Homo sapiens: one gene and its partner. The protein of the gene in region 1 purifies or fractionates together with the protein of each later gene. This does not show direct contact. Each region holds a gene or a part of one and is shown on either strand. Other genes may lie near its edges. The genes, in order: MAN1A2 and UBE3B.

Region 1 (3,987 bases):
GAGACGCCTGTCATATCGGGGGTACCTAGATTCCTCTGAAAGGAAGCCCAGCTGAAGGAGCAGGGTCACCACTTTATTTTAAAAACGTAACATGGCACATGTTGGTGCTCTATTAATCGAGCCTCGGGGGCCCAATAACGTGAGCATGGGCTGCTGCGTGGAAGTTTGAGACCCTGTTGCTGAATCCTCGGGCCTGACGGTCTATCGCTGAAGACAAGACTTCCAAAGAATCACAGTAAACGTTAACCTAAGCCATCAGAAGCCATTAACTCCGGTGACACTACATTTCAGCGAAACCTTCGCGACCCAACCCCTCGCTCCCTCTCGCCCAAACGCTGGGTCAACCCCACGAACTGGCGGTGGCAAGGCCCTGGGCACCGGTGAAGTTCTCGTGGCAGCGCAGATCGGCGACCTTCTCTTCTTTCGCGCTCAGACGGCGGCGGCAGCAGTACGCTTTCGGGCTGCTGGAGCCGGCAGCGGCGCGAGGCCGGAGCCCGGGCAGCCAGGCTGGGTGGGGGAGGGGCGGCGGCAGCGGAGCCGGGAGCGTGCGCGCGCACCTCACACTCCGCCGCCCGGGGACGCCCACTCGCGAGCCGGGGCCGGTAGGCCGGCCCGGGTCCCATCGCCCCCGCCCTCCGGTTCCTCTCCGGCGTGAGCCCAACGGGTGTCGGCCCAGCAGCTGCTGCGCTCACCAGGCCTGGGGAGGCAGGGTACGGGGACCGGGCCGCAGCCCCGAGCGGCGTGGGCGCGCTGCCTCTCTGGCAGCCGCCGCCAGAGCCAGCAGCTGCGAGCCACCGGAGGCGGCGCGGAGGAGGCCCCCGCGGCCGGGCAGGAAGGAGACGCGGCCGACCTCTGCCCGCCCGAGGCGCGGCTGCTCCCGCGCGCCCAGGCCCTCCCGCCGCTCCAGGGCTGAGTGAGGAATGAGCCGGCGCCTACCCCGGGCTCTCGGAGCGTGGGCCCCGGCTCGGCTTCTTAGGCGCGAGGGCTCGGCCACTGCGGCCGGCGGCCTAGCTCGGGGAGCAGGCGCCGGGGTTCACTGAACCGGCCGCGGAGAGGAGGAGGAGGAGGAGGAAGAGGAGGAGGAGGAGGAGGAGGAGCTCGGCGGGGGCGGCCGCCGCGCCTCCCCTCCCCCAGGACACGCCGGGGCTTCTCAGTGGCCGCCGGAGGAGGAAGTTCCGCTCCCTGACAGACCCGTGCGGTAGCAACAGCGGCGGCGGCCGCGGCGGCTGGCCGGACTCAGGTGTTTCGGACGCTATTGCCCTTCGCGCCAGCCGTCGAGTGGGCAGCAGCGGGACTCAGCCGGGCGCCAGGTTCCTGCCAGGCAGCGCCGGGAAGCGCGGGCGGCCGAGAACTCCTTCCTGCTACTTCGCCCAGCGCCGCTGCTTCGGCTTCCCAGCGAAGTGGGAGACCTTCCTCCCTGTTTGCAGACGTCCGTGGGAGACCCTTATTTTTTCCACCGCTAAGGTTAAGAGATTCTGGAATAGAAGCGTCGAAGGAGATCAAGTGAACCTTCTACAACTCCTCGGATGTCGCCAGTCTCCCTTTCGGGGCGGAAGACTACGTTTGAGCATCTCACTGAGGTGCAGGAATGGAAGAACCCACCTTGCAGCTTTTCTGCAGTGTGGCTTGCCTGATCTACCCCTAGGAATGAAGAGGAGGCTTGTAATAATCCGATGAAGTACAGATGTTGAAGAGGATATCGCAGGACCTAAACTTGTGATCGTTTGGGGGAGGTCACACACGTTTCTGAGTGGGAATGGATGGGCGTGAATGACGTGCCCTCTTAAAAAGCACAACAGTCCTTTAAGAGGAGCAAAATTGAGTTTTCCCATTTTGGCCAAGATTTTGAAGACAGTTCAATGTATTCTACATTTGACATAAGATGAGAACTTTCTAAAGTATTCTCTCCAAGAGCGTAAACGATGACTACCCCAGCCCTGCTGCCCCTCTCTGGACGTAGGATACCACCTCTGAACCTGGGGCCGCCTTCCTTCCCACATCACAGGGCTACCTTGAGACTTTCTGAGAAGTTTATTCTTCTCCTTATTCTTAGTGCCTTCATCACTCTGTGTTTTGGGGCATTCTTTTTCCTTCCAGACTCTTCAAAACACAAACGCTTTGATTTGGGTTTAGAAGATGTGTTAATTCCACATGTAGATGCCGGTAAAGGGGCTAAAAACCCCGGAGTCTTCCTGATCCATGGACCCGATGAACATAGACACAGGTTTGTTTATTTCAGAAGTTCTGGTACTAACATTTGGCAGAGCAAGGTACGGTGATTGGATCGAATCTGTCTTTTTTTTTTCTTGCAGTAAAATGTAATTTTTCGAGTCATAAATATTGTATTGTTACTTCAAGACTGGCTGAATAAAACCATAGACTGGAGGGACTCTACCTCCAGTCTATGGTAGAGTCCATAGACTGGTAGGACTGGAGTCCTACCTAAGTCGTTCTTCTCTTCGGTTTTATATAAGAAAAACATTTGCGTTCAGAGTTGTGTCTAATGTGGACATCTGGGAAGGGAGGTATGAAAACTTAACCTAAAGAAATGGTGACATAAGCTGTGCCTGCATTTATTAATAACGTGTTGGAGTCAGTCATTGTGCCACCATGTGAAATCAAAGCATCGAACCTTGACAGCTCTTTTGGGTGTGCTCTCCCAGAGGGCTCTCGTTTTCTGGCTTGTAGTTGAAGCTTAGTAGTGAGTCAGCTTTTTAGGATGACAAACGTGGGCAGAATATACCTGTCATTTCTTAACGTGAAAATATCCTGATTTTTGTTCTTTTTTTGGGGATGTGTGTTGGTGCTGTATATGAAATCAGTTAAGTTAAAAGGTATTGAATCCTAAGTTATTGCACTTTGTGAGGCTTGTAGACAAGATTTATTTTTGTGAAACTTAATTTTGCTCTCTCTTTTAATGTAATAGATGGACTGTGTCAAGCAACTATTGGAATTTGGTTGATTAAGGGGTTCACATTCTTTCAGATCACTAAATCTAAAGTGAGCTCTGGGGAGAGCATAGCCAAACTAGGATAAAATGGGAGCTCTAGTTACAATTTTTATAATTTTTATATTTGTACTCAAGAGTTTGGGAAAGTAGTTGACTTTTCTTAAACCTGCCATCTTTTCCTTGTTTCTTAAAATAATTCTTGAGTATGTGGGAAAAAAAATCATGTGCTTGAATTCATTTCCCATCTGATGATAGTTTTAACTTTTTGTCAAGCACCGAAAAAGCTTAGGTTCACGTGTAAGCCTACATTAAATATTTGGGAAAATGCACTGTTTTATGAGAACTGGTTTTTCTTTTTTTCTCAACCTAGTTAATTCATTACTTGTGTGATGGTTCTTTGACTTTTGGATGAATTTTATGGAGTAGTTACTTCTAATATTGTTTCATGCCATTCTTTTGTAACTAAGTTAATTTGGAATTTTTGCCATTTTCGACTACTGTACTCCTGTATTTGTTTCTTTAATTTTGCACTTTGCTTGTTGTGACTTTAAGAAAACACTAATATGATCTGTGAAATATGTTACTGAAAAATTAACGGTGAAAGTAGTTTTCCTTGAAAATCTTATTTCGCATGGTATTTGTATAACATATGAAATATATTGAAAAAATGTGTTAAGGCTGTTTTTAGAGCTGTTTCACAACAGCCACACATTAACATTACTTAGCTCTATTATTAATAGTATCTGTCATGTACTAAGCAGTTTAAAAAATACATTTTGAATGGTCTAAAAGTTTAAAATAATATGACCACATTTTAGTTTAAAAACATTTACACAAAAATTCTCAGTAAATGGAGTTAAAATATGAAATTTGAATGAAAATACAGATATGTGCCTTTTATTCACATTTTTAACAGTCTGTATAAATAGTTTAAACAAGAATTCTTAAATTTATGAAGCCCTTGGATATATATGCATATGTATTTAGCTATCTAAAACTATTGGGTTCCTGAGTTTGGAATGAGAGATTGGTTATTG
Region 2 (4,021 bases), on another chromosome or scaffold:
AACCTCAAAGCTCATCGACAGTAAGAGAGGGGAAGCAGCTTGTTCAAGGCCACGTGGGAAATGAACAGCAGAATCAGGACTGAATTTCACATATTCCTGGCTCCAGAGTCAGGGCCCTTTTTCTCCTGACGTCTGTTTCTTTGCATAAACTTTTTTTGTTTGTCCAAAATAGAAGAGCTTCTCCTCAAAGAGCAATCTGTTGTGGAATGTACACATAGAGAGCAGATAAACAAGGATCTGCCTGGCTCGCGTGCAGGTAGGGAAATACCCTGCTCACTTGGCCCTAAGGCATTCTGGTGGACTCCCAGGGCTCCGAGGAACATAGTGTGGAAACCCTGCGCTGAGCCATGTCTCACCTGACAAGCCAGGCATGGCAAGAGCCATTCCTGAGCAGCCAAAGAGGGATGGCTGGGAATGGATTATTACTGGGGTTGGGGGCGGTCTGGGGACTTTCGTTCCATTACTGAGCTGCTATCTGTGTCCTTGCCAAGCCTCTGTCCCTGAGACCTCTCTATCCTTATAAGCAAAGTGGAAGTGGCTCCTGTGTATGTCTGCTCACACCCCTGTCCATCCTTTTCAGAACACTGAAGGGGGTAGGGGAACACAGGACCAGGCTGGGCTAGTGGCAGTACCCCATTCCTCTTGCCACTGTGACTGGTTCAGAGATGAACCCAGGATTCACTGGACCTACAAGAAACCTGGATTTTTGAACTGGTCGGGAGGCCTCTCCTCCCTTTAGTCAAGACAGAGTAAGAATATAAAGTCAAAACTGCTCGTTGCCATGATTACAGCAGGAAAGGACGAGGTGACCCCAAAAGGGAGCAGGGATGAGAGAAAAGAATGAGAGGGAGAATCAGAACCCCCTAGCTCTCCTTACTCTAGCTGCCACGTTACTGAATATATTCTAGAGCACAACGTTCTCTTCCTTGCTTAACTGGTACGTGATACTAGCTGTGCTCACGTTCGGCTTCTGTACTTTTAACAAGAGGCCTGACTAGTATAATAATGTAGATCATAAAGTACTGATTACATTAAATGAATGGGAAGGAAAGTGACAGATTCCCTGCCATGGAGGCTGTGGCGTGGCAAGCAGTTTAAGGGTCCAACACACACCAAAGGAGGGCTCATATTGATAACAGAATCAAAATTCCTCTCTTCCAGAACAGTGGCTCAACTAGCAACTCTCGTTGATAGTGACTCTGAAAATACAGACTAAAGTCTACAGGTGAAAATGACATACGTACTGTTTCTGGTTTTGCTTTTTTTTTTTTTTTTTTTTTTTGTTACCTTGAGCTGCTTGAGAAAATCACAGCAGTACCACAAAATGTTCTTGATCTGTTGAATCCAAAGGAGGGTGAGGTCCTTAGAACAAGCCAGGGACACATACCACACCTATAGGTGGGAAAAAGAGGAATGTCATGGGCTGTTATAGAGATCATATCACTTGTGCTCTAACTGTTGGAACTGGACCTATTAGTTAGGTCCAGTGCCAGATAAAGCAGTGGACCTGAATGGACAAATAAGCTGTAAACAGGACTTATTTTAACACTAAACGCAAAGACAAAATAGCCTAGTAAGAAAATTTACTATCCTGTGTTGTGGCAAGAGCAGAACGTAGCTACCTGGATCATGAAGAAACTAAGGAATCATTTGTACTTTGGTAATGTTTTCCATCCACTACTTATTTGCATTTGTGTGTGAATTGGTCCTAATATTCAACAGGAACTTTCAGAGCCCAGTAGGTTGGCCCTTAAGAGCTTGTGGGAGACACTGCGGCTCCCGTCCACTTACCTTAGGCTCATTCTCAGCATCCATGCTGCTCAGGATGCTGCGACACAACTTCTCAAATCTCTGCAAAGAGACACACTGGGGGTTATACATTCCCACAATCCATCAAAAAGTGAAAACAAAGAAAACAAGCCTTCAGCGGGTACCTGGCACGTGCAGGTATTATGCCAGGTGATTCACACATAATCACATGCAGTTCCTTCCTACAGATGAGGACACTGAAGATCATAAAGACTAAAGGGTTCTCCAACTGGTGGCCCAAGAGCTGGAGGAACCCTATAGAAATGTTTTAGAAACTGGTATACTTCACATAAAAACCCAAATTGAGGCTTCTTTCAAAAAACAGTATCAATCTGGCAAACTGGATTTGGATTCCTGCAGGCCTGCTGCTGTCTCCTCAACTGTGCTCTCCAGTTTACCTTTTCTTAAGCACCATGGATACTGACTTTTGCCTCACAGCCAGTAGCCAAAGGCTGCTGTATCATCACTTTTATCCTGTAATGCAAAAGGAAGAAAAGTGGAAACTAGAAAACAGGTTCCATTTTGGCTATACCAATCCTGGATCCGCCCTTAAACCATGTGATATTGGGCAAGCTGCCCTACCACCCTGAGCTGCAGTTTCCTTCTCTGTAAGATGAGGTTCACCTCCTCCAGCTTATCTGTCCTCATCTACGTAATCATGTGTTCACTGCCTGCATAGTCCTCCCTCTCTTGCTGGGCTATGAGCTCCATGAGCGTAGAGATCTTGCCCGTCCTGTTTCCTCCCAAGGGCCCAGTGCCTAGAGAGGGTTGGCACAATGTGAAGCTTAGCAATAGGAATGCCTAACAGCCTAACAGCTGGTAACTTGGAGACATGCCTCAGTGGCATTGTTAGTACTATTACAGATAACTAGCTGCTTTTCTGGGATTACACTTTTCAGGCTGATCATTCTAATCCCTAAGGTGCAAACTGGCACCTTTTGTATGATTTGCAGGATATTTAAAAAATTTCAAATTAATTGCCAAGATTTACAAATTAGAACATTGATGGTAGCTCACGCCTGTAATCCCAGCACTTTGGGATGCTGAGGCAGGTGGATCACTTGAGCCCAGGAGTTTGAGACAAGCCTGGGCAATAAGGTAAAACCCTATCTCTACAAAAAATACAAAAACTTGCTGTGCATGGTGGCACACACCTGCAGTCCCAGCTACTGAGGAGGCTGAGGCAGAAGAATCGTTTGAGACTTGGGAGGTCAAGACTATAGTGAGCTGTGATAGTGCTACTGCACTCCAGCCTGGGCGACAGTGAGACCCTGTCTCAGAATATGAAAGAATGAATGAACGAACATTGAGCATAAAAACTCAGATCTTTGGCATCTCTTTAAAAAAAAAAAAAAAAAATCAGAGGCTGGGTACAGTGGCTCACGCCTGTAATCCCAGCACTCTGGGAGGCTGAGGCGGGCAGATCACAAGGCTAAGAGATCGAGACTATCCTGGCCAACATGGTGAAACCCCATCTCTACTAAAAATACAAAAATTAGCTGGGCGTGGTGGCACGAGCCTATAGTTCCAGATACTAGGGAGGCTGAGGCCGGAGAACTGCTTGAACCCGGGAGGTGAAGACTGGCAGTGAGCCAAGACTGCGCCACTGCACACCAGCCTGGCGACAGAGAGAGACTTCATCTCAAAAAAAAATCAGAGTATGAGTCCACCACCGAGGTGTGTAGTAGCTGCTCCCCGTGGATGGGGCAGGCCACAGACCCTGCTACTCCTTTTGATGTCCTTACCACTGCTGCCTGTCAGTTACCGTTTAATATGATTTGTATTTTGTATTATGTTTTATCTCATATATGTTTTTTTTACTCATTTACCTAAACTTCCTGACTCTTGCATGCATCTGAGTTCAACTTGTGCTTATAATGGTCAATGTGAAAAGATTCCTAAAAGCACTGGGCATAATCCCTCCAAAACAGGTCCCAAGAAAACAAAAGGGACAGGATGTGAGGGTGACAGTAATTACCTCATAAAGCTGCTATAAGAACTGAGTTAATATCAATAATTATAAAAGATCTGACATATGGAAGTATTATACATGTTTGCTATTATCGTTTTACCTCATTATCCTCTTTGATTCTGAATAGGAACAGCAGTTTCCTGGCAATCTTGAAAATACAAAGTGCACTTCTTTTAGTGGACTCAGGGTCATCTGCTTTAAAAAAGTCATCAATCTCTCTCCTAGAAAAGAAAGTGCAAA

The links.
Region 2: the proteins of MAN1A2 (region 1) and UBE3B purify together in Homo sapiens (affinity purification with mass spectrometry; one large-scale study listed by BioGRID and IntAct). This does not show direct contact.

The regions. Positions count from the first base shown.
Region 1 is NC_000001.11:117,366,262-117,370,248, forward strand, and holds the start of MAN1A2 (mannosyl-oligosaccharide 1,2-alpha-mannosidase IB), read left to right. Parts: upstream 1-1,187; 5' UTR 1,188-1,922; coding exon 1,923-2,224; intron 2,225-3,987. UniProt on the Homo sapiens protein: Involved in the maturation of Asn-linked oligosaccharides. Progressively trim alpha-1,2-linked mannose residues from Man(9)GlcNAc(2) to produce Man(5)GlcNAc(2).
Region 2 is NC_000012.12:109,483,842-109,487,862, reverse strand, and holds part of UBE3B (ubiquitin-protein ligase E3B), read right to left. Parts: intron 4,003-4,021; coding exon 3,882-4,002; intron 1,852-3,881; coding exon 1,792-1,851; intron 1,393-1,791; coding exon 1,288-1,392; intron 1-1,287. UniProt on the Homo sapiens protein: E3 ubiquitin-protein ligase which accepts ubiquitin from an E2 ubiquitin-conjugating enzyme in the form of a thioester and then directly transfers the ubiquitin to targeted substrates.